4 linked regions of the Homo sapiens genome follow. The protein of the gene in region 2 purifies or fractionates together with the protein of the main gene of each other region. This does not show direct contact. Each region holds a gene or a part of one and is shown on either strand. Other genes may lie near its edges.

Region 1 (4,566 bases), on a different chromosome or scaffold from region 2:
AGCCTGGGCAAGAGAGACTCTGTCTCAAAAAGAAAAAAAAAAAAAAGAGAGAGAAACAGAGAAGGGAGGGAGGGAGGGAGGAAGGAAGGAAGGAAAATGTTGGCTGGTCTGGGAATTGAATCAGAAGGAAAAAAGAAAATGTTGGCTGGGAACAAATTGGGTGTTGGGGGAAATCAGATGGGGAAGGGAACAGAAACATGGGGTACCCTGGAGCCCGGTGGGGTTTGAGGGCTGCCTAGGAGCTGCTGAGGTTGGGAAGACACAGGCCAGGTAGTGCCCCCACATCCTCTCCGTGGGATGGACAGTTGCAAGCAAAGGCCTTGCCATTTCCTGGTTTCTCCTGCCCTTATGAATCGGGTTTTTTTCTGGGAGGAGTCCTCTAGTCACCTTCCTCCCCAGGTGACCAATGCTCAGGACTTCGGGGCTCAAGGAGTGCTCATATACCCAGAGCCAGCGGACTTCTCCCAGGACCCACCCAAGCCAAGCCTGTCCAGCCAGCAGGCAGTGTATGGACATGTGAGTCTGGGGAGGCTGGTCGTGCTGTTCCCAGGTCCCGAGGCCACACCTTCTTGCTCAGAATAGGGCTGGCATGTTTTTCGTTTTTCCTGGAAGCCCAGCTCGCAGCTTTGCGTGGGCACCCCTTTCCCTGCAGGTGCACCTGGGAACTGGAGACCCCTACACACCTGGCTTCCCTTCCTTCAATCAAACCCAGTTCCCTCCAGTTGCATCATCAGGCCTTCCCAGCATCCCAGCCCAGCCCATCAGTGCAGACATTGCCTCCCGCCTGCTGAGGTGAGGGGAGTGTTGGGGACCAGAAGAGGAGGAAGCAGAGAGAGGAAGGCTGCAGCGAGGCCACAGGGTGATTGTGGGTGAACTAGAAAAAGGTGACTCTTGTTTAAGCCTGCAGTGAGCCATGACTACACCACTGCACTCCAGCCTGGGAGACAGAGAGACCCTGACCTTTTTTTTTTTTTGAGATGGAGTCTTGCTCTGTCTTCCAGGCTGGAGTGCAGTGGTGCAATCTTGGCTCACTGCAACCTCCACCTCCCGGGTTCAAGTGATTCTTCTGCCTCAGACTCCAGAGTATCTAGGATTACAGGTGCCCCCCCACCACGCCCGGCTAATTTTTGTATTTTTAGTAGAGGGTTTCACCATGTTGGCCAGACTGGTCTCGAACTCCTGACCTAGTGATCCGCCCATCTCGGCCTCCCAAAATGCTGGGATTACAGGTGTGAGCCACCATGCCTGGCCGGGACCCTGACTCTTTAAAAAAAAAAAAAAAAAAAAAAAAAGTGACTCTTCTGGATGGACACAGCCTTTCTCCAGGGTCTACTGTCTGGCAACTAAAGTTCCCACTGGATTGCACACCTACCTCAGCTGAGAACCATCCAAGGCAGCCCTGACTGCACTGCCCTACCCAGGCAGCGTCCAGAGGCAGCGATCTGGAGCCAGAAAGGGTGGGAGGGAAAGAAATAAGGAAAAGAGTGATTTGGACTCTTCTGGGTCTCTCTACAACTTCCCCCTTTCTGCCTTCCTCCTCTCCAGGAAGCTCAAAGGCCCTGTGGCCCCCCAAGAATGGCAGGGGAGCCTCCTAGGCTCCCCTTATCACCTGGGCCCCGGGCCACGACTGCGGCTAGTGGTCAACAATCACAGGACCTCCACCCCCATCAACAACATCTTCGGCTGCATCGAAGGCCGCTCAGAGCCAGGTATGCTGTGTGTCCAGTATCACTCACAGCTGGTGGTGGGCTGGGGGAATTTCTGCCCATACACCCTGGCAAGATAGGGGGCTGGTGCAGGAGGCCCCAAGAGGGGACAGGAGTGGTGCCCAGAGGAGGGAAGCTGGCAAGTTGAGGCTGAACTGGGTCTGATGGTGGCAGCAGTGAACAGACCTCACCTTCCAGCCTGTCTAGTGATGGAATGGGGGTTGTTGCCCAGTAGTGAGCTCCCCAGCACTGGAAGTGAGTAAGCCTAAGTTGGATGATGTTGTAATAGAAACTCAAGCATGGGCCGGGTGTGGTGGCTCACGCCTGTAATCCCAGCACTTTGGGAGGCCCAGGCAGGTGGATCACTTGAGGTCAGGAGTTTGAGACCAGCTTGGCTAACATGGTGAAACCCCGTCTCTACTAAAAATACAAACATTAGCTGGGCCCGGTGGCATGCATCTGTAATTCCAGCTATTCCGGAGGCTCGGACAGGAGAATCACTTGAACCCAGGAGGTGGAGGCTGCTGTGAGCCGAGATTGTGCCATTGCACTCCAGCCTGGGCAACAGAGCAAGACTTTGTCTCAAGAAAAAGAAAAAAAAGAGAAAGAAAGAAAGAGAGAAAGAGAAAGAAAAAAAGAAAGAAAGAGAGAGAGAGAAAGGAAGGAAGGAAGGAAGGAAGGAAGGAAGACTCAAGCATGAAAGAAAGATCAGATCAGATTAGATAGAAGCATAGATGGCCCTTTCAAGCATAGCTAGATGTGGATGGCAGTGGAGAATTAAAATAAGTAATTGACAGATGGGGCAACAAAGCCAAGACTTCACAAAAAATTTAAAAATAAGAGAAATTGGCTGGGTGCGGTGGCTCACGCCTGTAATCCCAGCACTTTGGAAGGCCGAGGTGGGCGGATCATGAGGTCAGGAGATCGAGACCATCCTGGCTAACATGGTGAAACCCTGTCTACTAAAAATACAAAAAAATTAGCTGGGCATGGTGGCAGGCGCCTGTACTCCCAGCTACTCAGGAGGCTGAGGCAGGAGAATGGCGTGAACCCGGGAGGTGGAGCTTGCCGTGAGCCAAGATCGTGCCACTGCACTCCAGCCTGGGCAACAGAGCGAGACTCCAAAAAATAAATTAAATAAATAAATAAGTAAGTAAGTAAAAGAAATTAGCCGAGCATGGTGGCACACATCTGTGGTCCCAGCTACTTGGGAGGCTCAGGCAGGAGGATGGCTTGAGCCAGGGAGTTTGAAGCTGCAGTGAGCTATGATCACACCACTGCACACTCCAGCCTGGGTGACAGAAACCTTGTAAGTCCAGAATGACCTCAGGCACCCAGCTGAAGGAGCACACCATCCAGGAAGGGCCAAGTGGGGAGGGGCGCCCTCTTTAGGGACTGGAGGGACTGCAGGGCTAGGGTTGCCGGAATTGTGATGGGCTGAGAGACACAGGCAGATGGAGGATGCCCCCAGGGTGCAGGGTGCAGTGTCAGAAGTGGGTCCCAAACATCCCCTCCCCAGATCACTACGTTGTCATCGGGGCCCAGAGGGATGCATGGGGCCCAGGAGCAGCTAAATCCGCTGTGGGGACGGCTATACTCCTGGAGCTGGTGCGGACCTTTTCCTCCATGGTGAGCAACGGTAAGGTCAGGGCCAGGGCCTGGGCCTGGGCTAGGCAGCGGTGGGCCTGTGGCCCGAGGAGGATAGGGCAGAGAGGCAGTGAGGGACACAGACTGGCCAGTGGTCACTTGGACCTCGGCATCCACATTGTACCTGAGTGGCCCTGGGCCAGTCACTTCACCTCTATTTCGTCACCTAAAAATGAAAGTGAGGCCGGGTGCGGTAGCTCACGCCTGTAGTCCCAGCACTTTGGGAGGCCGAGGCAGATGGATCACCTGAGGTCAGGAGTTTGAGACCAGCCTAGCCAACATGGTGAAACCCTCTACTAAAAATACAAAAATTAGCCAGGCGTGGTGGAGGGCGCCTGTAATCCCAGCTACTAGGGAGGCTGAGGCAGGAGAATCGCTTGAACCTGGGAGGCGGAGTTTGCAGTAAGCCGAGATCGCACCACTGCACTCCAGCCTGGGCAACAGAATGAGCCTCCTTCTAAAAAAAAGAAAGAAAAGAAAAGAAAAAAAGTGACATGAATGATAATCATAGTCCATGGGTCTGTGTCAAGATTAAGCATGTTGGGCTGGACGTGATGGCTCATGCCTGTAATCCCAGCACTTTGGGAGGCCAACACAGGAGAATCGCTGGAGACCAGGAATTCAAAACCAGCCTGGGCAACATAGGGAGACTGCATCTCTACAAAAGTTTTTTAAAAATTGGCTGGACTTAGTGGTGCATGCCTGTAATCCCAGCTACTTGGGAGGCTGAGGCAAGAGGATGACTTGAACCTGAGAGGTCAAGGCTACATTGAGCCATGATTGCACCACTGCACTCCAGCCTGGGCGAGAGAGTGAGATCCTGTCTCAGAGAGAGAGACAGAGAAACAGAGACCCTGGGGGACCAGGACAGAAGAAGACAAGGGGAGGGTCTTTGCTTGGCCCCTGCTAAGCCTGTCCTCCTTCCCCTCTGTCCCCAGGCTTCCGGCCCCGCAGAAGTCTCCTCTTCATCAGCTGGGACGGTGGTGACTTTGGAAGCGTGGGCTCCACGGAGTGGCTAGAGGTGATACGGGGTCCCGGGCAGGTCGTTAGGCATTGGGGAGAGGTGGGGGTGGGGGGTTCCCACTCCACACTGGTCACCCACCCACAGGGCTACCTCAGCGTGCTGCACCTCAAAGCCGTAGTGTACGTGAGCCTGGACAACGCAGTGCTGGGTGAGCTGGGGCAGTGCCACCACCTGGCCCCCTGGGGTCCA
Region 2 (6,316 bases):
GCTGGGCCGCGGCTGGTGTGTGGTGCTGAGGCAGCAGCCTGAGGCTGGCAGAGGGGATGGTGTGTCCTATGTGCACCAGTGTGGACCCACAGTGGCTTCAGGGTGCAGGGTGTCCGGGGAGCCCTGGCTGGTGCCAGCGATGCGGGGCCCCTGGTTATAAGGATGAGCAGATGGAAGCTCACAGGGGCCCCAGGTACCTGGCCCAGGCTAGCCCGGGCAGGCCCCTCTGCCCTGTGCCCCGTGGAGCTGCAGCCCTGTGCGTCTTCCCGCCTGGAAGGCTTCACCAGACACAAGGGCCCAGCCCCAGCTGTGTGTGTGCTGGGCCCAGCCCCGAGGGCCCCCTTCCTCCCCTGCTGCCCTTCCCAGGCTTTCGGGCAGAGCCCTCTTGTTCACCGCCTCCAGGAGGGCGGGGCGTCCTAGTGGGCCCAGCCTCATCTCTGCCCTCGCGCTCCAGGCCTGCTTTCCTCCTGCTGGGTGGGGATTGTGCCCTGGCCCATGTGGGTTGGGAATGGTGGCCCCAGGGAGGGCTCCTGGCACCCGGGGGCTGTGTCCGGGGCAGGTTTCCCTGCCTGGCAGCTGAGCCCTGTCGTGTCTTTGACCCAGACTCGGAGCCGTGGGTCCCGACTGAACATCATCATCATCGCTGAGGGTGCCATTGACCGCAACGGGAAGCCCATCTCGTCCAGCTACGTGAAGGACGTGCGTGTGGGCCTGGGGGTGGCCACTGGGCACCTGCTCCTCTAGGCCGTGTGGGCTGGGGCTCAGGGCTGGTCCTTCCCACTGTCCTGCAGCTGGTGGTTCAGAGGCTGGGCTTCGACACCCGTGTAACTGTGCTGGGCCACGTGCAGCGGGGAGGGACGCCCTCTGCCTTCGACCGGATCCTGGTAAGTGGCCATCACCCTGCCCTGCGTACGTGCGTGGGTAAGCGTGGTGTGTGGGTGTGGGTGTGGGCAGTGTGCACGCGAGCATGGCACGTGCACTGTGTCCATGTGGCTGTGGGTGAGTGTCCGTGTCTGTGTGTGGGGGTGTATGTGTGGGGGACGCGTGGTCCTTGTGGGTGTGTCTGTGTGTGTCTGGTCCGTGTGGGTGTGTGTGGCAGTGTGTGTGGGTGTGTGTCAGTGTGGGTGTGTGTGGGTGTTCCCTCAAGCTGTTGCTCCTCCTGGGGGAGACTGAGGCCTGGCTTCTCCGTTCCCCTGCAGGTATAGGGAACTCAGACCTGGGGACCATGGGAGGCCCCCCACCAGCCTGTGCCTCCTGGCTGTTCTGACCCCCACCCTCTGCCAGCCCAACGTGGCAGCAGTCAGGGCCAGGGGCAGGCCCTGGGAGAGGGGCTGGGTGGGCAGAGGGTGGTGCCCATGGCGCCTGTGGCGTCACAGTCTGGGAGGCTGGTGCTGGGAGGGAGCATTCGGGGTCTGGCCTGGCCTCGCCGTCCTTGGTCCTGATCACCGCTGGGTCTCACTTTGTCCTCTGCAAAATGGGAATGAAGTTGGAGCCAAATGGAGTGGGTCTGGGGCCAGGAAGGCACCATGGTAGGCAAAATGCCTGTGTATGAGGGTGGTCACCCTCTCAGGCAGGGCCAGAGACTGTCAGACAGGTGGGACTTGTGCTGAGGGAGACCAGGTGACTGCGCCCAGCCCTGTGACTGCACCTGGCCCTGTGACTCGTGTGCTGAGCCGAGCATTCCCAGGGAACCCACACAGCTGGACGAGGGCCACTCTATAGAGGGGAGGCTTCCTCAGAGAGGGGCCCCGCCGACCTAGCCAGGCAGCTGCTGTCCCCTCTGTGAGGCCTCAGGCTCACTCTGAAGAGCCTCTTGAGGGGCCGGGGACATCAGGGCAAGCCAGCCGCTGCTGAGCCTGGGGTGATGGAAATGCCGCTGCTGTGACCGGGCCAGCCATGCACTCCCAGCCTGCAGGCTGCTGGGTTTTCCAGCCAGTGTCTTGGATGCCTGATGCCGGGTGTGAAACAAAGGACAGTTGATCGCCCCTAGCCGCGGCTGTCACCCAGAGCGTCAGCATTCTTGTGCTCCCTGAGCCCGTATTCCCACTGGGTGCTGCGAAGGGGCCAGGGGACCCTAGCACGTGCAGTGGTAACCTGCACTTTTCCAAGGAGCCTCATCCTGCATGGGGGGTGTCTCCGAGGCTGCTCCCTAAACAGCGTCCTGGAGAGACTGCCCAGAATAAGGTGCCGCCTGTGCCTCACTTGCAAGATGAAAAAACCTGTGTGGAACACGGAGGGCTGTCTGTGGCCCCGGGGGTCCAGCTGCTGGGCTTCTACAGGGCTGGCCACTGGTGGTCATGGGACGGCCACGGCAACCGCAGGCCTGGCTTTCTTGTCCACTGTGGCCGGTTCCCGGGGTGGGGCTGGGGCCTGCCTTTGCAGTGTGTCCCTGGGGGGCAGCTCCTGGATGTGTCCTCTGCCCAGCCCTTTGGCCGGTGCGGACACACACCAGGGAAGTCACGACATGAGGGCCTCCACGGGAGGATCCATCGCAGCGGATGGGGCCCTGGGGACCTGGCTCCCGCCCTTGCCTTGCGCGCCTAGCGATGGCAGCGAGCGACGGTGGGTGGGTCGCATTGCATGGCACCCTGCAGCCAGCAGTGCAGGCTGGGCCTTCCAGCAGGGCAGCGAGGACTCTGTGAAATGGTGTCTGGTGTGCCGTCGTGAATGCTGGTCAGACACGTTTCCATCTCTGATGCCACCTGTTCTGGAAGCTTCCGTCAGCGTGGGGGGCTCTGGAAGCTGGGGTTTGCACATCTACAGAGGATGGGCATGTGGCTTGGGGTAGAGGGACCAAGTGGGTGTGCCAGCCTGAACCCTTCCCCACAGAGCAGCAAGATGGGCATGGAGGCGGTGATGGCGCTGCTGGAAGCCACGCCTGACACGCCGGCCTGCGTGGTCACCCTCTCGGGGAACCAGTCAGTGCGGCTGCCCCTCATGGAGTGCGTGCAGATGGTAAGCCCTGGGCCCCCCCCATCAGAACCGCCTGGCCCCTCTCCCCAGTCCCCACTCACAGGCCCCACTGCTCTCTGGGGGCCCCAGCACTGTGAGCACCGGAGGGCAGGGCCTCGTGGCTGGCCCAGGGCATCCCAGGTCTCCAGGGAGGGGAGGGATGTGAGCACATCCCTGGGTGGGACGTGGGACCTGGGACGTTCCCCAGGAGGTGTGTCGGAGCTGCAGGGAGCCTGGTGAGCATGGGAAGTCACAGGGGTCCACGGCCACTGAGCTTCTGTAGGCAGTGGTGGGAGTTGGGGTTACGATGGGACGGAGGAGGAGGGGCCAGTGATCAGAGCAGAGCCCTGGGAGGAGCTCAGGCAGGTGATGGGGAACACTGGGGTGGCTGGAGCAGGGACCCCAGGAGAGGAGGTACGGGGAAGGCAGAGGCGAGGGGGCCGGGTGTGGGGGCTGGTCCAGCCCTGGCTCGGTGGGTTTGGAGGCCTGCAACTGGGGCAGAGTGCCCTGCCTGGAGCTGGAGCTGCTGAGAGGTGAGGAGGGCAGCTGGGGGCAGGGTAGGGCCTCCTGGTCTCAGCCAGCCCCAGAAGAGCTGGCCTTGGTGGTGACCGCTGTTCCTAGGGAGAGGCTGCCAGGCCTGGGCCAGGGTCAGGAGATGCCGGCCAGATCTGCCCTCGTCAGGCCCACCAGACAGGGCAGTAGCCATGGGTGTGCGGGCCAGGCTCTCCATAGTCTGTGTTCTGTTTCTCTTCCTTAAGACCAAGGAAGTGCAGAAAGCCATGGATGACAAGAGGTTTGACGAGGCCACCCAGCTCCGTGGTGGGTAAGCCCCCTCAGCAGACCCCTGCACTCTTACATGGCTGGGTCCCGGTGCCAGGCAGCATGTGCTGCAGTGGCGCTATGCACGCCTGGCCTGGGTCATCCTTCTAGGCACCGCGTCTGAAGATCGAGGGAGGAAGGGGCCTGCGGGTGGTACAGGAGGCGGGCTGGGAGGTGTGGTACCACAGGAGACCCTGGGCGGTGGCACGGGCAGGGCCCAGTGCACAGGGATCTGGGCATGGCGAGGGGATGAGAAGCTGTGGATACAAGCCCAGGACATGGGGTGGCCCCGCGGGGGCTGGGAAGGCTGGCAGATGTTGGGTGTGGGTACCACCCCCCTGCAGGCGTCCTGGCGGCCGGGTCAGGCTGGATTGGACGTCTGGGTTCCCATGCGTGCCTCCACCCGCTACCAAGGTGGCCAACCCTCCCTTGAGCTGGATGCCGGCCACGTGCTTTGCTGCACGGGCTGGCGTGGCCTCGTGTTGTGTTGGGGGTCTCGCACCTTCTGTGGAAGGTGCCCTGCCTGGCATGCGCGGTGTCTGCTGCCTCATGGCTGAGCTTCCATCGGGCCGTGTGCCTGTGACCAGCCTCCTGGGCTCTGTCACGGCTGCGCTGTGGCTGTACGCCGTGGCGCTGCAGGGCTGTGCATGGTGTGACCCGAATCCCTTCCAGGAGCTTCGAGAACAACTGGAACATTTACAAGCTCCTCGCCCACCAGAAGCCCCCCAAGGAGAAGGTGAGGCAGGGAGCGGCGCCCACAGAGGGAGGAACGGGCTCAGTTATTCTGCAGCCTCTTCACGCTGGCCCCGTGGCTGGGCCTGCCTGCCCCCACCTTCCCTCCTGCTGGGGTCCGAGCTGTGAGCTGGGAGGGTGGGCCTGACCTCTGCCTGGGCTCAGGCACCACTGTGGCTGGCAGGTCCCGGGTGCTGGGACCCTGGCTGCAGGGCTGGCTGTTGCTTCTCAGTGGTGGATGGAAATGAAGTCAGGCCACAGGCTTAACTCAGGAGAGGAGAAGCCATTGTGTAGAAAATGTCCCCCGGGGCCAGGCTCACACCTGTAATCCCAGCACTTTGGAAGGCTGAGGTGGCCAGTTCACCTGAGGTCAGGAGTTCGAGACCAGCCTGGCCAACATGGTGAAACTCCGTCTCTACTAAAAATACAAAAATTAGCTGGGCGTGGTGGTGGCACATGCCTGTAATCACAGCTACTCAGGAGGCTGAGGCAGGAGAATAGCTTGAACTTGGGAGGTGGAGGGTGCAGTGAGCCGAGATCGTGCCATTGCACTCCAGCCCGGGCGGCAAGAGTGAAACTCTGAAAATAAAATGTTCCCAAACAGCTGAAAACCTCAGGAAATGGGATCTCTCCAAAATAAGGATGAAATGGCTTGTTTCTAAAGTCCTGGGGGACGAGGGTCCTGTAGAGAGAGTCACGGCCAGTGAGGTCCTGGCTCCCAAGCCCCTTGAGCCACAGCCGGAGCTGCAGGCCGGGGCAGACAGCGTGGCCCAGCCTGAGTCTGGTCCTCCCTTCCATGGACATCTTTGGGTGTCCCTGCTGCTCCAGCCTCCTGCTTATCCCCAGAGCTAGTCAGCGGGCTCTACCCTCCGTGGTGGGGCAACCTGGTCTCCACGAACCCAGAACCTGGCAGGGGCGTGACTGGCTTTGTGGGCAGCAGGGCTGGCTCGTACCAGGACCCAGTGGGGCCATGTGGCTATGGAGCCCTTGGGTGTGGCTGCTGCCAAGTGGGATGTGCTGCACGTGACAGGTGCACGCCAGGTTCAGAGCCTCAGCACGGTGGGTGGAGGGGAGGTGGTGGCGGCCGTCACTGGATTCACATGGATGTGGTGGGGTTTTGGGTCCATCAGGTTAAATTAACTGTAGTCCTGATGGGACTGTCTCCATGTCTTTTCCCTTCCCTTAACGTGGCTACTAGAAAACAGGATAGCCAGGGCCCCTTCCTTACTCGTGGCTGTGCACCCCCCACCCTCCCGCCCGCTGCCAGCCCCTTGTGTGGGCACTGACCTGTGTTCCCGCCCGCAAGCCTGGCTTCACAACAGTGCTCGCCCCTTCTGCCTCCTCTGTTGCCTGCGTGCCAGGGGGCCAGGCTTGCACCGTGTCTCTTTTGGTCTTCACCAGAATCTTCTGGAATTAGAACAGATACCGTATTCCCAGGGCAGTTGGGCGGTGTGCTGGGCAGCGTCCAGGCTGCTGGCAGGGCCTGGCCCCTTTTTCCAGAACCTGCCGGCCTGCTGACCTCCTGTGCAGGTTGGGGGTCCCCTCCCCGGCTGTGCCTCACGCTCATCTCCCCTTCTCTCTGAAGTCTAACTTCTCCCTGGCCATCCTGAATGTGGGGGCCCCGGCGGCTGGCATGAATGCGGCCGTGCGCTCGGCGGTGCGGACCGGCATCTCCCATGGACACACAGTATACGTGGTGCACGATGGCTTCGAAGGCCTAGCCAAGGGTCAGGTGGGTCCGGCCGGGGCAAACAAGTGAGGACTTGGGCCTTCTGTGTGCACACTTGGGGCATTTCCTGTGGAAGGCCGGCTG
Region 3 (6,316 bases), on a different chromosome or scaffold from region 2:
AGTGGGCTATTGAGATCCTGACCCCCATTCTCCTGTGGTCATGGGAGGTGGGGTAAATGTGTAGACTCCAGTGAAGCAGAATTAAGAAGGCATTCAAGAAGGCAGAGGGAGGCCTCGTGTGGTGGCTCATGCCTGTTATCCCAGCACTTTGGGAGGCTGAGGAGGGCAGATCACCTGAAGTCAAGAGTTCAAGACCAGCCTGGCCAACATGGCAAAATCCCGTCTCTACTAAAAATACAAAAACTAGCCAGACATGGCAGTGCATGCCTGTAGTCCCAGCTACTCAGAAGGCTGAGGTACAAGAATCGCTTGAATTCAGGAAGTAGAGGTTGCAGTGAGCTGAGATCATGCCAGCCTGGGTGACGGAATGAGATTCTGTTTCCAGAAAAAAAGAGGCAAGGCAGATGAGAGCAGGGCCTGCCTGGTCACCGTGAAAAGTCAACTTCTTTGCCACAAGGCAAACATACACCTTGTGTGCACAGGCTGCCAATCCATGGCCTATGGCCTGAAAGCAATGACTTTGGGATTAAAATAAAACAGGTGGTAGGACTCCTTGTCCATATCTTTTTATAGCAATAGGTAGAAAGGAGCTAATAGATAGGTCTGCTTTTTTTTTTTTTTTGAGATGGAGTCTTGCTCTGTCACCCAGGCTGGAGTGCAGTGGTGTGATCTCAGCTCACTGCAACCTCCGCCTCCAGGGTTCAAGTGATTCTCCTGCCTCAGCTTCCCAAGTAGCTGGGACTACAGGCACCTGCCACCACGCCTGGCTAATTTTTTTGTATTTTTAGTAGAGACAGGGTTTCACCATATTGGCCAGGCTGGTCTCAAACTCCTGACCTCAAGTGACCCACCCACCTCGGCCTCCCAAAGTGCTGGGATTACAGGCATGAGCCACCACACCAGCCTTTTTTTTTTTTTTTAAAGAGAATTTCAGAGAATTGGTATGCACAGAGATTACCAGAAGAAGCCGAGGCCCACTCACCGTATAATACTTCAGTTTCTTGTTGTGCATGTGAATGATATTGGTACAGACACCATTCAGAAAATCCTGGGAATGGGAGACGAGGACCAAGATGCGCTTAAAACTGTAAAGCCAAAGAACCAATTAGTGAAGAGCTCAACCATGGGAGCTAGCTGACAACAGGTGAACTGAAAGTCAGGCCCATCCTCATCCCTAAGCACCTTTTAGATGTGTTGTCCAATTCCTGGCTGTTAGCAAGCACCTAAGCCACGACTCGACAATCTAACTGTAAGGGTATTTGGACGCCTTTCAGTGTGGCGAGACAGCCTGAGTTTCCTCAATCTTCTGTTCTAATTTTCAACAGAATGGGATGGAGACGGTAGTAACAGTGATAGTAACCAGAAGTGTGTATGTACACAAATACACCCACGAATGTATCCAAAACTGTGGGTGGGAAGAACTGGTACAGACACAATAAAAAACAAAATGCTTTACTTTTTGAAAGAAGGTACTAAGTCATCGTACCACTAAAAGCCTTCTTTTAAAATTGGTACAATATTCCAGCTTATTCAGTTCTTTAGCTGTAGGACCATGACCATATTGGCTATATTTTCCTTTGTCACTGCATCATGATCTTAGATGGAAGACCTCTTTTTAGCTTTATACAATTAAGAAAAAAAATATATCTTTAATTAAGATCTTGAATTTGAAATATGGACAAAACCAACAAGGATTTTTTTTAAAAAAAAAAGCTCATAAATTTCAAACTAAAGAAAAACAATCAAAATAAAAGGCCAGCCTTCAACAGCCCTAAAGGTGCTCACTGCTTGTCCAAGAAAGTGAACTCTGTCCTTCCTTCAGTTCCTTTCTCACCGCTCTAACATCAGTGCAGTTTCTGGGCATCCATTTTCTAGATTCCCCCTTTGGGACCTGCCCGCTCACATCCCCCATTCCACCCTCTTACGTTTTTAGTTCTTCTTCCAACCACACGCAAGCATCTAGGTCCAGGTGGTTGGTAGGCTCATCCAGGAGCAGCATGAAGGGCCGAATAAAGAGGGCTCTGAAGGACGGTAAAGGAGACAGAAGCACCTCAGAATTATAATGGATGTGACACAGGACGGGACAAACTTGCCTGCTACATGCAATTCTGAGTAGGCTCCTGGCTTGAGTCTTGAAATCAATTTTAGGCTCTATACCTCAGAGGGAAAAGGAGAAGCAGGACAGAAACAAGAGTCGAAGAGAAGAGATTGAAGAGTAGAATACGGGGCTCAGAAGCATATAAGGACAGTTCGAGGCAAGGCTGTAGAAGTCTTTATGAGTTTATGAGCCTTGTGCACTGAAGTTGGAGACTACGGAGAAGACAAAAAAATACAGAGGAAATAAACTGCTAAAACAAATTAGACCTATCTGAAGGTCTGAAGATAGACCTATCTTGTGGGGTGGCCAGAGTCTAGCGAGGGATAGACTCTAAAGCTCTGGTTCCCAAACCAGAAATCTGTGTTTTTAAAAGCTCCTTGGGTGAACCGGAGGCAGCTAATCCTTGCTAGCATGTGGAACCACTGTGCTTATACTCTAAGGCACATGCAGGCAACTTTCTAGAGAAGTATATCAAGTCTTATAAATTCCCTTCACAGAGAATGATGGGGCAAGGAATTACCTGTTTAGTGACTCTGGGGGGATTATTGGGGGAATGCTGGTCTATGGAAACTCACTTTGAGTCCAGGCCACAAGAGAATAAGAACGACAGCTATCATAATAGCCGTCTAACATTTTATCTTTACAGCTGGAATTAGCAGGACTAGAGTACAAAAAGGGTGGAAAGGGAATCCTGGTGGGAGGACAGAAACAGACCTACTCCACCGTTTTACCTAGGACTACCCCTAGGATCTCTAAACTCTGTGCTGGGTGCTAAGAATCCAATAGAAAACTGAGTCACTCTACCACTTCAGCCAGGAAGCTCTCTCTCTAGCCCATACACAACAACCCCCTCCACACTGCAGATGTCCATGTCTCATTTGACACTTACCACTGACTCCTGTTCCAAACAGTTCCACTGGAGTGAACACTAAACACTGGAGAGATGGGGGAGTTATGGGGGTAGGGAAGGAGGGAGGGACTCACCTGGCAAGGGCAACCCTCATCCTCCAGCCCCCACTGAAGTCTTTTAGCTTCTTGCGCTGCATGGCAGGTGTGAAACCCAGTCCATGCAAGATCCGCGAGGCCCTCATCTCTGCCTTGTCGGCATCCAGCTCCTCCAGGCGCTCGTAGAGCTCCATGAGCTTCTCACACTCCGCTGTGGACAGTGTATGGCCATGAGGCTCCTGGGGGCCTTTCTGGGAGGACGCCCACCCCTATGCCCAGGTCTGGAGCCCTACCATCCTCATGAGCCAGCCGCTCTGCCTCTTTCTCCAGCATGGCCCGCTCTGTGTCGACTTCCATCACACAATGCAAGGGTGTCTTGTCACTAGGGGGCATCTCTCGAGTCAGATGGTAGATGTCGATGTGCTCAGGGATGGGCACTTCACGCTTCCCAATAGCAGAGAGCAGCATGGACTTTCCTGAGAGGGGAGAGCAGCAGACGCTTGGTACAGTGAACTCCCCTATCCCTCTTCACCACTAGTTCTTCCACCCCAGTCAAACTGGGACCTCATCCATTTTTTTTTTTTTGAGGACCTTTCTTCCCTTCATTCGTTCAAATCTTGCCAGCCCCCATTCTTGGGATTCCTTTCTAACTTTCCTCCAATTCTTGCCCCACCCCTTATCTGAAGCTTTTTTCACTTACCACAGCTTCACACGCCCCTGACCAACTTCTCCAGCACCTGCTGTAACTAATCATGTGGTACAGGGTGGACGCACCCTAATCTGAAAATCCAAAATGCTCCAAAATCCAAAACCTTTTAAGTGCTCACATGATGCTTAAAGGAAATGCTCACTGGAGAATTTCAGGTTTTTGGATTAGGGATGCTCAGCCGGTAAGTATAATGCAAATATTCCAAGATCCGAAACACTTCTGGTTCCAAGCATTTCAGATAAGGGATACTCAACCTGTACATAACACATACTGCTCTGCGTTGCTAGTTCCTTTCCCCTGGACATAATCTGGTCTCCCATCCCTATTCTAAATGCTTTGCTCTGAACACAGTTGATGCTAAATAAATGCTTGTGAGTGACAGATGAGCTAAGGAGAGATACCTCCCACCTCCCCTTCCAAGGCCTCACCAATTCCATTTAAACCAATGAGGCCATAACGACGGCCTGAGTTTAATTCCAGTTTGGTGTCACTGAGCAGCTCTTGACCATGAAAGGTAAGTGAGAGGTTGATGATGTGAACATCAGTACTGTTGGGGTGAGAGGCCAGGACGCCAGTGACAGCTCGAGCAGCAGCTTTCTTCATCTCAAAGTCCTCTAGCTCCTTGGTCAGCAAATCTACTTCTGCGGATAGAAAAGCAGTTTGGGAAGATGGCGTGAGACAGACTCGGCTCTCCACAAAGGTCAACGTCCTGAAGGACCAGGCTCCAATCCTGCTGAGCACTCAGATGTTTCCCAAACTTTACAGAGTGCACAATGACACAGAGCTGCCCCGACACCCTGCTTTCCTTTGTTTTGTCCTCCCATATCTGTTTACTTACTCCCATCACTCTTAACTTCTGTCCTCCACTACTGTGGCCAGGAATAAAACTTCCCCACAGCCTGACTTTATTGCTCTTTCTAATTGCTTTCTAAGTCCCCCTTTTCTGAACGCCTATCTGTTACAACTTGCAGACTAATTCTCCTTTCCTCTTCAAACATTTACTTAGTGTCTACCTGAGAAGCAAGTCATAAAAAAAACCCAAGACAGGGTCCTTGCACTCAAAGATGAAACAATTTAGACAAAGAAACAGGAGATACAACATAAAAAGGTAAGTAACACTAAAAGACAGCAAAAGGGTATAGAGAATGGAAATACTGTGGTCAGGTTTGACTGAGAGACGCTTCATTATCTTGAGCTGGGCCTTGACAGAAATGTCAAATGTAGCTAGCAAAAACATGATGGTATTATAATTCAGTGTGTGAAAGGACAGAGATGTGGTGACTATCCAAGAGATAATAAATAGTCTGGATGGAGCAGAAGGCTGTTTAGGGAGTTTTCAGGGGGCAGGGAAGAGGGCTGGGATTGGACTGCCAAGGGCCTGGAATAGTCTTTACCGCATATGGCCATGTTTCCCAGTCTAGACGGTAAGTTTTTGGAGGGAAGACGGTAGTGCCTCAGTGTATAGCACCATGTCTAGCACTTGAGAAATAATAAATATTTCCCAAAATATAAATAACAGAAAGGGAGCTCTCTCCCAGGAAAAACCCCATAAATCAACTCATAAGTTACTCTCTTGTAGGTAGAGCCACTACACCAGTGAGAGGACAAGCTTATTGTATAATGTAGCAAAGAACCTGGCACATTGGTCACCATGCATAGAAATGGAAACTGAGAAAGGGGCAGGGAACTGATCCCCTCCTCACAATCTAATAGAGCAGCAAGGCAGCTCAGCAACTCTCACATCCGCTTGCCACTGAGTATGTGAGAACCTCGTCTTCGGCTTCCTTGCGCAATGACAGGGTGGCACGAATTCCAACTCTACTGATTTGATTCATCATGAAAAGTTGCATGACACCAGATACATTCTCCACTACCCCCAGCATCAAGATTCCAACTCTGGCTGGGGCATGCATTAAGTCTTAGCAACCATCCCCAACTCACCCCTCCCTCAATTCACCTGTGGTCTCTCTGCCATTGGCCTCATTCTTCTCTGCCACCTGTGGTTCTGTGACAACATCTCCATTTTCTTCATGTCCTTTTCTGGGCCGCTGTCGAGCTTTGGCAGCCTCCTTCTTTTTGGCTGCCTTCTTCTTGGCCAGGTCGGAGGGCATGATGATGACCCACAGGGGTAGGTTACTGTTGTTTCAGGGAGCCTGAAGGAAGGCAAACAGATACCCCCAAACCCTAAACTTACTAGTAAGAATGCCTGGGCCCTGCTCCATCCCTCTCAGGAATCTTCGTATCAACATCAAGCCTCTGATGCCCTGGCCTGCCCCCGCCTCGTCTGTTCCAACTTGGTCAGGGTATCCCAAACCAATGCCGATTCTCAGCGGCTCTTCTAATCTTAACATCTCTTCCCACAGGCACCAGTCCCCCACGGACTGCCTCACTTTGGAAACGCTCCTTCTTTCAGGGCCTCCGGCTGGGGACCAGGTTCTGCCCCTCAGCGGAGGTCTCCGTCTCCGGTTTCCCTACAACTTGGCGCTCCGCACTCAGCTAGCCGCCTCACTTTCCGGGCTTCCTCCTCCCGTCCGTCTCGGGCCTCTTCTCGATCGTCCCTCTCC
Region 4 (6,316 bases), on a different chromosome or scaffold from region 2:
TAAAAGCTGTGTAAACCTTATACACATGCTTATAGCATTGATGTTAACTGTTGTTGAAAGCACTCTATAAATTATAAAATCCTACATTAATAGATGAGTAACAACTCTATGACTCCTAGGCCAGTACTCTTTTTTTTTTTTTTTTTTTGGTTGGTCTCAGTTTTTAATAGTGGCAGGGCCTCACACACTTGCACACGTGCGCATGCACGCACACACACTCTAAGGCTTCAGACCTTGTTGAAAGCTGCAACATCGACACTCTACACACGCTCTCAAACTTGGTAATCTCCTCTTCCAGAAAGTTTGTCCCCACCTTGTCGTCCCCCACCACACACTGAATCTGCAGCTTCCGGATACCGTAGCCCATGGGCACCAGCTTGGAGGCCCCCCTAGACCAGCCCGTCCAGCTGGATGAAGCGCATACAGGCCTCCAATTGGGCTATATTGGTCTCATTGTCCCAAGGCTTGATGTCCAGCGGGATGGAGGACTTGACCACCAACGCAGTCTTCTTGGCCTTCTTCTCCACATACCACCTCAGCCACTTCTCCCACAGCCGGGCTGCCTCCTTGTCTTCCTCCTCATTGTCGCTGACAAACAGGTCAATGTCATTGTCCTTGTCACCCTCTGCTAGTGTGGCTGCCTTCTTGGCTGGGGGCTCCACTTGGCACATGGGAGACACATGCTGGATCTGCGTGGCTGTGTCCCTGTGGCCAGGCAAGCTCTTCTCCAGCATGTTCAGCCACAGGCCAGCACTCTTTTCACTATACTAAGTTGTCAGACCCACAGAGAACTAACACCCATTGATAACTCACTGTGAGTTAATGACTGCTAAAGGGACACTGCACATCATGGCCTGCAAAACTATCCATAGGACCCAGCCACACGTAGGATGTGCCACACATCTAAGAATATTCAGTCAGCTCTAACCACGCTGTAGGCTTCCAGAGACCCAATATACAAAAGGGAGAATACAGCAAATGCTCCTAGTGTACAGTATTCTCTGTACTCCTAGAATACAGAGAATACAGAATCTACCTCCTAGAAAATTGTTAATAGCTCACTGCCCATGTACTTCCATAGCTGCCTATTTGTTCTCAAATCCATTCTCTTTTTCAATTACTTACCAAGCTTGTTTACTTAGGGAAAAGGATGTCTCAAGTCTTGCTAAGCAGAGATATTAAATTAGATTTTTCAGTTCTTCCAGGCCTCGGCACCCAAACAATCCTGTTAATGAACCCACAGCTCCTCTGGCTTTCCTTGCTGGGCCAAGCTTGAGCTCCATGAAGCTGTGCCAGTCTCGACTCTGCCTTGTAGCCAGCACTGCCATTCTCATAGTGAAAGGCTGTTTGCCTCTGCCAGCCCCATTCCACCCTTGAATAAACAACCTTTCCAGCTAGCCAAAATGCTTAGCTTCTTTCAACTGGGACTCTGTAATTTGAATCTGTAATCCAATTAGACATTTCTTAACCAAATTTGGCAACTCTTCACCATTTAAATTAGGTTTTGATCTTTCATTCCTCTCTCTTCCTAAGCATGGACTTTCTGGCAGAAGAACTGGTAATGAAGAAAACTGTTTCATTCTATCTCAGGCCTAGGCTAACAAAAACTACAATAATAATAATAAATGTGTAACTCTGTGAATTATAAAATCCGATGTTAAATGATTATTAATATCACCAGGCTCCTTTCATTATACTAGGCTATAAATACCTCTCCCCAACATCTTCCCCGCACTACCTCTTACCCTATCTTTCCTAGAAATGCATTTGCTGAGACTTTGTCTTTTTCTGCTTTCAGAATTTTGCTGAAGAATATCCCTCTTGGTCAGAAGCAAAACATCTGCTACACTTCCCAGGACAGGCCATTCTATAACCTTGACTTCATTAAGAGGAAAAGCTATCTTAGCATTTTATTTCCCCTTTTGCCCATATTAACATAAAACTTTGAGCTTCAATTTCTAAACAGCTGTTCTAGTTCCACATCTTCACATTCTTCCTAAAACAGAAATCTTAGGTAGGATTCCCATTATTAGCTTATCACAATGTACAGAAACTCATGACGTGTGTAAGGAATGAACATACCAATGAATATCTACACATCTCCAAGCATATACATAATTTCTTGCCCAATAAATCAACAGTCCCTTACATAGTGCATAAAGTCATGCTGTCCAATACAATAGCCACTAGCCACATGTGGCTGTCTAAATTAATTAAAATGATATAAAATTTAAAATTTAGTTCCTTAGTTGCTCAACAGCCACATGTAGCTAGTGGCTACAAAACCACATTGGACAGCAGAGATATAAAACATTTCTGTCATCACAGAAGGTTTATTGGACAGCACTGATAGAGGCTGTTTATGAATAATACTGTTGTGAGAAATGGTGACTAGAAGCACTGAACACAGGTCACGGGTAACCAATGCTTTTTACAAATCCACTAAAACAACTTGTCTGGGAAGTGAATTCTGCTGTTGCAGCATGAGTAGCAGATTTAAAAGTACATTTTGGCTTTAACAGGTAATCTGGATCCTTACCAAAAATTTCTTTTTCTCACTGGCCCCTGCACATGAGCTTGTTGTTACTGTGGGGCTGTTCAGAAGGGCTGAGCTGCTGCTGTTGTGTTTTTTCTTTAAAAACAAAAAAACTGAGGTTAATAATTTGTATCCTTCGTGCAACATAAGTTTGACAACATTGAAGTAAATCATGGATCCAAAGATCTAGTACCTCTTGTTAAGATTACTTCCTAACAGTCAATCCTTTTTAGGCTTCTGCCTTCATAACCACTGACTTCACTCTACCAGCGCAGCAGCAGGCACAGCAAAAGATCAAGACTTCCCTCATCATGGCTTTTAGGCTCTAAGCAGAAGGAGTCCTAAAAAGGAATCCTCCTTCAAGGAACCATCAGTGACCATTCCGCCCCTCCTTTTCCCAGCCTCGTCCTTTTGGGCCTTCCAATTCAAGAAAGCTTCCCCTTTTCACCCACTAACTGATATTCATGCTAATAGTCCAGTCTGGAGAAAGATCAGCTAACTGGAGCAATGTTAGCAAGCACACACTACATAGGAAGACAGGAAGGAAAGTGAGGTCATTAGGCTCAAGCAAGGGGGAGGGGACTCACTTCTGGTAAAATGCTCCTTCGAAAAGTGGCTTTGAATACAAATGAGTTATAGCAAGGGAGAACTCACACAGTCAGACTGAATAACATATGAAAATAGTGTAAGAATGGGCCCTTATCTGTTTATACCTCCAGTACTATAAGGTAACAACAACAAAAGCAGCTTTTTAAACTAATCCTTCTGTTTTAACATGAAACAAAAGGACTCCTCTTCCCTTGGGGTCCCTAGGATTCCTAAAGGCAGGAAATACTCTGGAAGGCTCTATCTAGCAGACCACAGACAGGAAAAGTTTTAGGGCCTTATACTATCTCTAGGAACCAATTCTGAAGAATTGGTAAACAAGGTGCAAATGAGAAGAAAGGAGGTTAGCTGATAACAAACAGAACCAAAAGGGAGAATGTCATACACAAATTTTCATCAAACATGCCCAATATAGCTAGCTGACACAGCACTGGATACCCACTAGGTAGGAAAGCTCCCCATCATTCACTCCTCTCTGCAGAACAAAGTACCCAGGAAACAGGTAAGTGGCACTACAGGTGAGAAGAAGATTGTCAATGACACACAAGTTTAAATGTTAAGGAAAATAGGCAATGTTTTCCTAAAGAAGCATACAACTCTCAATAAAACAGGCACTATCAATAAGGTTAATAAGGTAAAATAACTGTAAACAGTAATAACAAAATCACTCATTATTGCCTTCAGAATATACTAGGTGACATTTTAATTAATAAATTTACCTTCTTAATTATATTTTACATAAGCTAATACCAAATTAATTAGTTTTTCCTGACTATATACTGTAAGGTAGCTAAAAACCTTCTGACTTAGGGATCATGAATCTGAATTAAATATTTGCCAAATATCAGTAAAGGGGAAAAACGAATATGAATACTGTCCCCATAACAGATGAAATGCTTACACAAGGCTTTAAGACTCCAAATCATAGATCCATAACTGCATGGCATATATAACTTTTTTTTTTTTTTTGAGACAGAGTTTCACTCTGTCTTGCCCAGGCTGGAGTGCAGTGGTGCTATCTCGGCTCACTGCAGCCTTTGCCTTCCAGGTTCAAGCGATTCTCCTGTCTCAGCTTCCTGAGTAGCTGGGACTACAGGCATGGACCACCACACCTGGCTAATTTTGTGTTTTTTAGTAGGGACAGGGTTTCACCATGTTGGCCAGGCTGGTCTCAAACTACTGACTTCAGGTGATCCGCCTGCCTCGGCCTCCCAATATCACTTACCATTTAACCATACCTGGTTGGTATGTATTACTTCCCATTTAACAGACTGTGAAAGGAAGGGGTCAAAAGCATTCAACCCTGGTAATGTAGTCTCCTTGGCTTTTCGTATATTTCCCATTTGAAAACCCCTCCCCAACAAATCTCACTTAGCTCTGCCAGGGTCACACACACCTGCCTATTTGAGTGACCTGTGTCTTTGTTCTTCATGGTCTCATATCCAGGCATCCGGTGACGTCGGTTCATCTGGAGGGCCACCAGATCGTTCATGATTGAGTTCAATGCCTCCTGTTCGTCTGCAATGAAAGAGAGCACATGGACTAAGACACTTAAATACAGACCAGCAAAGCTCTTTCACAAACTGTATAACTAATACTCAGGGAGTTCTGCCCAGGTAAAATGACAGACCCTGTAACTATAATCAGATGCAGCCCAAAAGGTCAGACTATGGCAATTTGAATTTTAATGGATTCTTTTTTTTCTTCGAGACAAGGTCTTGCTCTGTCACTCAGGCTGGAGTGCAGTGGCGTGATCATAGCTCACTGCAGCCTCCAACTCTGGGGCTCAAGTGACCTTCCCACATCAGCCTCCTGAGTAGCTGGGAACACAGGCATGCACCACCATGCCTGGATGATTTTTTTATTTTTTGTAGAGACGGGGTCTCCCCATGTTGCCCAGGCTGGTCTCCAACTCCTGGACTCCAGTGATCCTCCTGCCTCGGCCTCCCAAAGTGCTAAGATTACATACAGGTGTGGGCCACCATGCCTGGCCTTTAATGGTTTCTTAATAGCCCTCCAATCAGATTTCCTGCAGCAATATTTACCAATTCATTGCAGGGAAGGGACACGCTCAAACAGGGCAGTTGGTCCAGTGCCAGAGAAACTTAACCAGGAAAAATAGATGAAAAATTGAAGTGAAGAACACAGTACAATGTAATATGGTACTGAATGAAAAGATGAATCCATAGAGAGAGGATTATGGCACAGTGTCAGTCCCAGACTTATTCTTAAAGCATCATAAGGAGGAGAGCACACTTTAAAAGGTACCAAATAAGGGCCTCAGGTAACTGCTTTGAACAGAAGTTGTTTTACAAGCCTAGCATTTGAATGCCGCCACCACCAGCAACCCCCACAACTCTTTACAAGTTTATAGGCCTACTACTTCCCATGGGGAAGTCAAAGGGTAGTTCTATTGTTTTTCCTCCCTAAGCTGACCAAGCAATGCATTGTCTCCACCTTACTGGCATTACTTTTAATCCCCTTTTCTTGAAATAGCATGGAGTACTAGAGTTCTCATACATTGAAAACAACTGGCCAAAACCCAGAACACAAACCAGTCCAATTCCATGTTGTACAAATTTTTCCCAGGTCCTTTAAGAGATCTTTGCCCATTCAAATAGCATTTGGAGATTGAAAATGAATAAATCTGTTGATCGTGAAGGGAACATGAGGGATGAGTTGTTACACTTGCTTTGGTGACAACTGAGCCATTTGGGGACTTGGGGCACACCTTAAAAGAAGCAAATACAAAAGATTCCACCCAAAGAGAGTGCCTATCTTCTACCCTTTATCACTGTCCCTTGGAAATATTCTAATACCCTGTGGAAAGAAACGAACAGCATGAAATGTAGGAAGTAAAACTGCTCAAGTCTCTTCTCCCACTACTGATTAACTGATTGACTGACTGACTGAAACAGGGTTTCACTCTGTTGCCCAGGCTAGAGTGCAGTGGTGCAATCACAGCTCACTGCAGCCTCCTCCACCCCCAGGCTCAAACAATCCTCCACCTCAGCCTCCAGAGTAGCTGGGACTACAGGTGCACACCACCATGCCCTGCTAATTTTTGTATTTTTTATTGAGCGAGGGTTTCACCATGTTGCCCAGGCTGATTTCAAACACCTGAGCTCAAGCGATCCTCCCTCCTTAGCCTCCCAAAATGCTGGGATTACAGAC

What was found.
Region 1: the proteins of PFKL (region 2) and TFR2 purify together in Homo sapiens (affinity purification with mass spectrometry, with the first as the bait; one large-scale study listed by BioGRID). This does not show direct contact.
Region 3: the proteins of PFKL (region 2) and ABCF2 fractionate together in Homo sapiens (co-fractionation; one large-scale study listed by BioGRID). This does not show direct contact.
Region 4: the proteins of PFKL (region 2) and MAP3K3 purify together in Homo sapiens (tandem affinity purification; one large-scale study listed by IntAct). This does not show direct contact.

What each region holds. Positions count from the first base shown.
Region 1 is NC_000007.14:100,628,032-100,632,597, reverse strand, and holds part of TFR2 (transferrin receptor protein 2), read left to right. Parts: intron 1-399; coding exon 400-516; intron 517-652; coding exon 653-792; intron 793-1,372; exon of another isoform or gene 1,373-1,442; intron 1,443-1,545; coding exon 1,546-1,709; intron 1,710-3,225; coding exon 3,226-3,345; intron 3,346-4,291; coding exon 4,292-4,374; intron 4,375-4,461; coding exon 4,462-4,525; intron 4,526-4,566. UniProt on the Homo sapiens protein: Mediates cellular uptake of transferrin-bound iron in a non-iron dependent manner. May be involved in iron metabolism, hepatocyte function and erythrocyte differentiation.
Region 2 is NC_000021.9:44,315,641-44,321,956, forward strand, and holds part of PFKL (ATP-dependent 6-phosphofructokinase, liver type), read left to right. Parts: intron 1-603; coding exon 604-699; intron 700-791; coding exon 792-884; intron 885-2,829; coding exon 2,830-2,955; intron 2,956-3,710; coding exon 3,711-3,775; intron 3,776-4,443; coding exon 4,444-4,507; intron 4,508-6,088; coding exon 6,089-6,235; intron 6,236-6,316. UniProt on the Homo sapiens protein: Catalyzes the phosphorylation of D-fructose 6-phosphate to fructose 1,6-bisphosphate by ATP, the first committing step of glycolysis.
Region 3 is NC_000007.14:151,220,596-151,226,911, forward strand, and holds part of ABCF2 (ATP-binding cassette sub-family F member 2), read right to left. Parts: intron 5,906-6,316; 5' UTR 5,864-5,905; coding exon 5,710-5,863; intron 4,394-5,709; coding exon 4,181-4,393; intron 3,520-4,180; coding exon 3,337-3,519; intron 3,255-3,336; coding exon 3,083-3,254; intron 2,022-3,082; coding exon 1,926-2,021; intron 1,086-1,925; coding exon 983-1,085; intron 1-982. Other genes in the region: ABCF2-H2BK1 (ABCF2-H2B protein), read right to left, coding at 983-1,085, 1,926-2,021, 3,083-3,254, 3,337-3,519, 4,181-4,393, 5,710-5,863.
Region 4 is NC_000017.11:63,631,025-63,637,340, reverse strand, and holds part of MAP3K3 (mitogen-activated protein kinase kinase kinase 3), read right to left. Parts: intron 4,661-6,316; coding exon 4,539-4,660; intron 2,633-4,538; coding exon of another isoform or gene 2,540-2,632; intron 1-2,539. UniProt on the Homo sapiens protein: Component of a protein kinase signal transduction cascade. Mediates activation of the NF-kappa-B, AP1 and DDIT3 transcriptional regulators.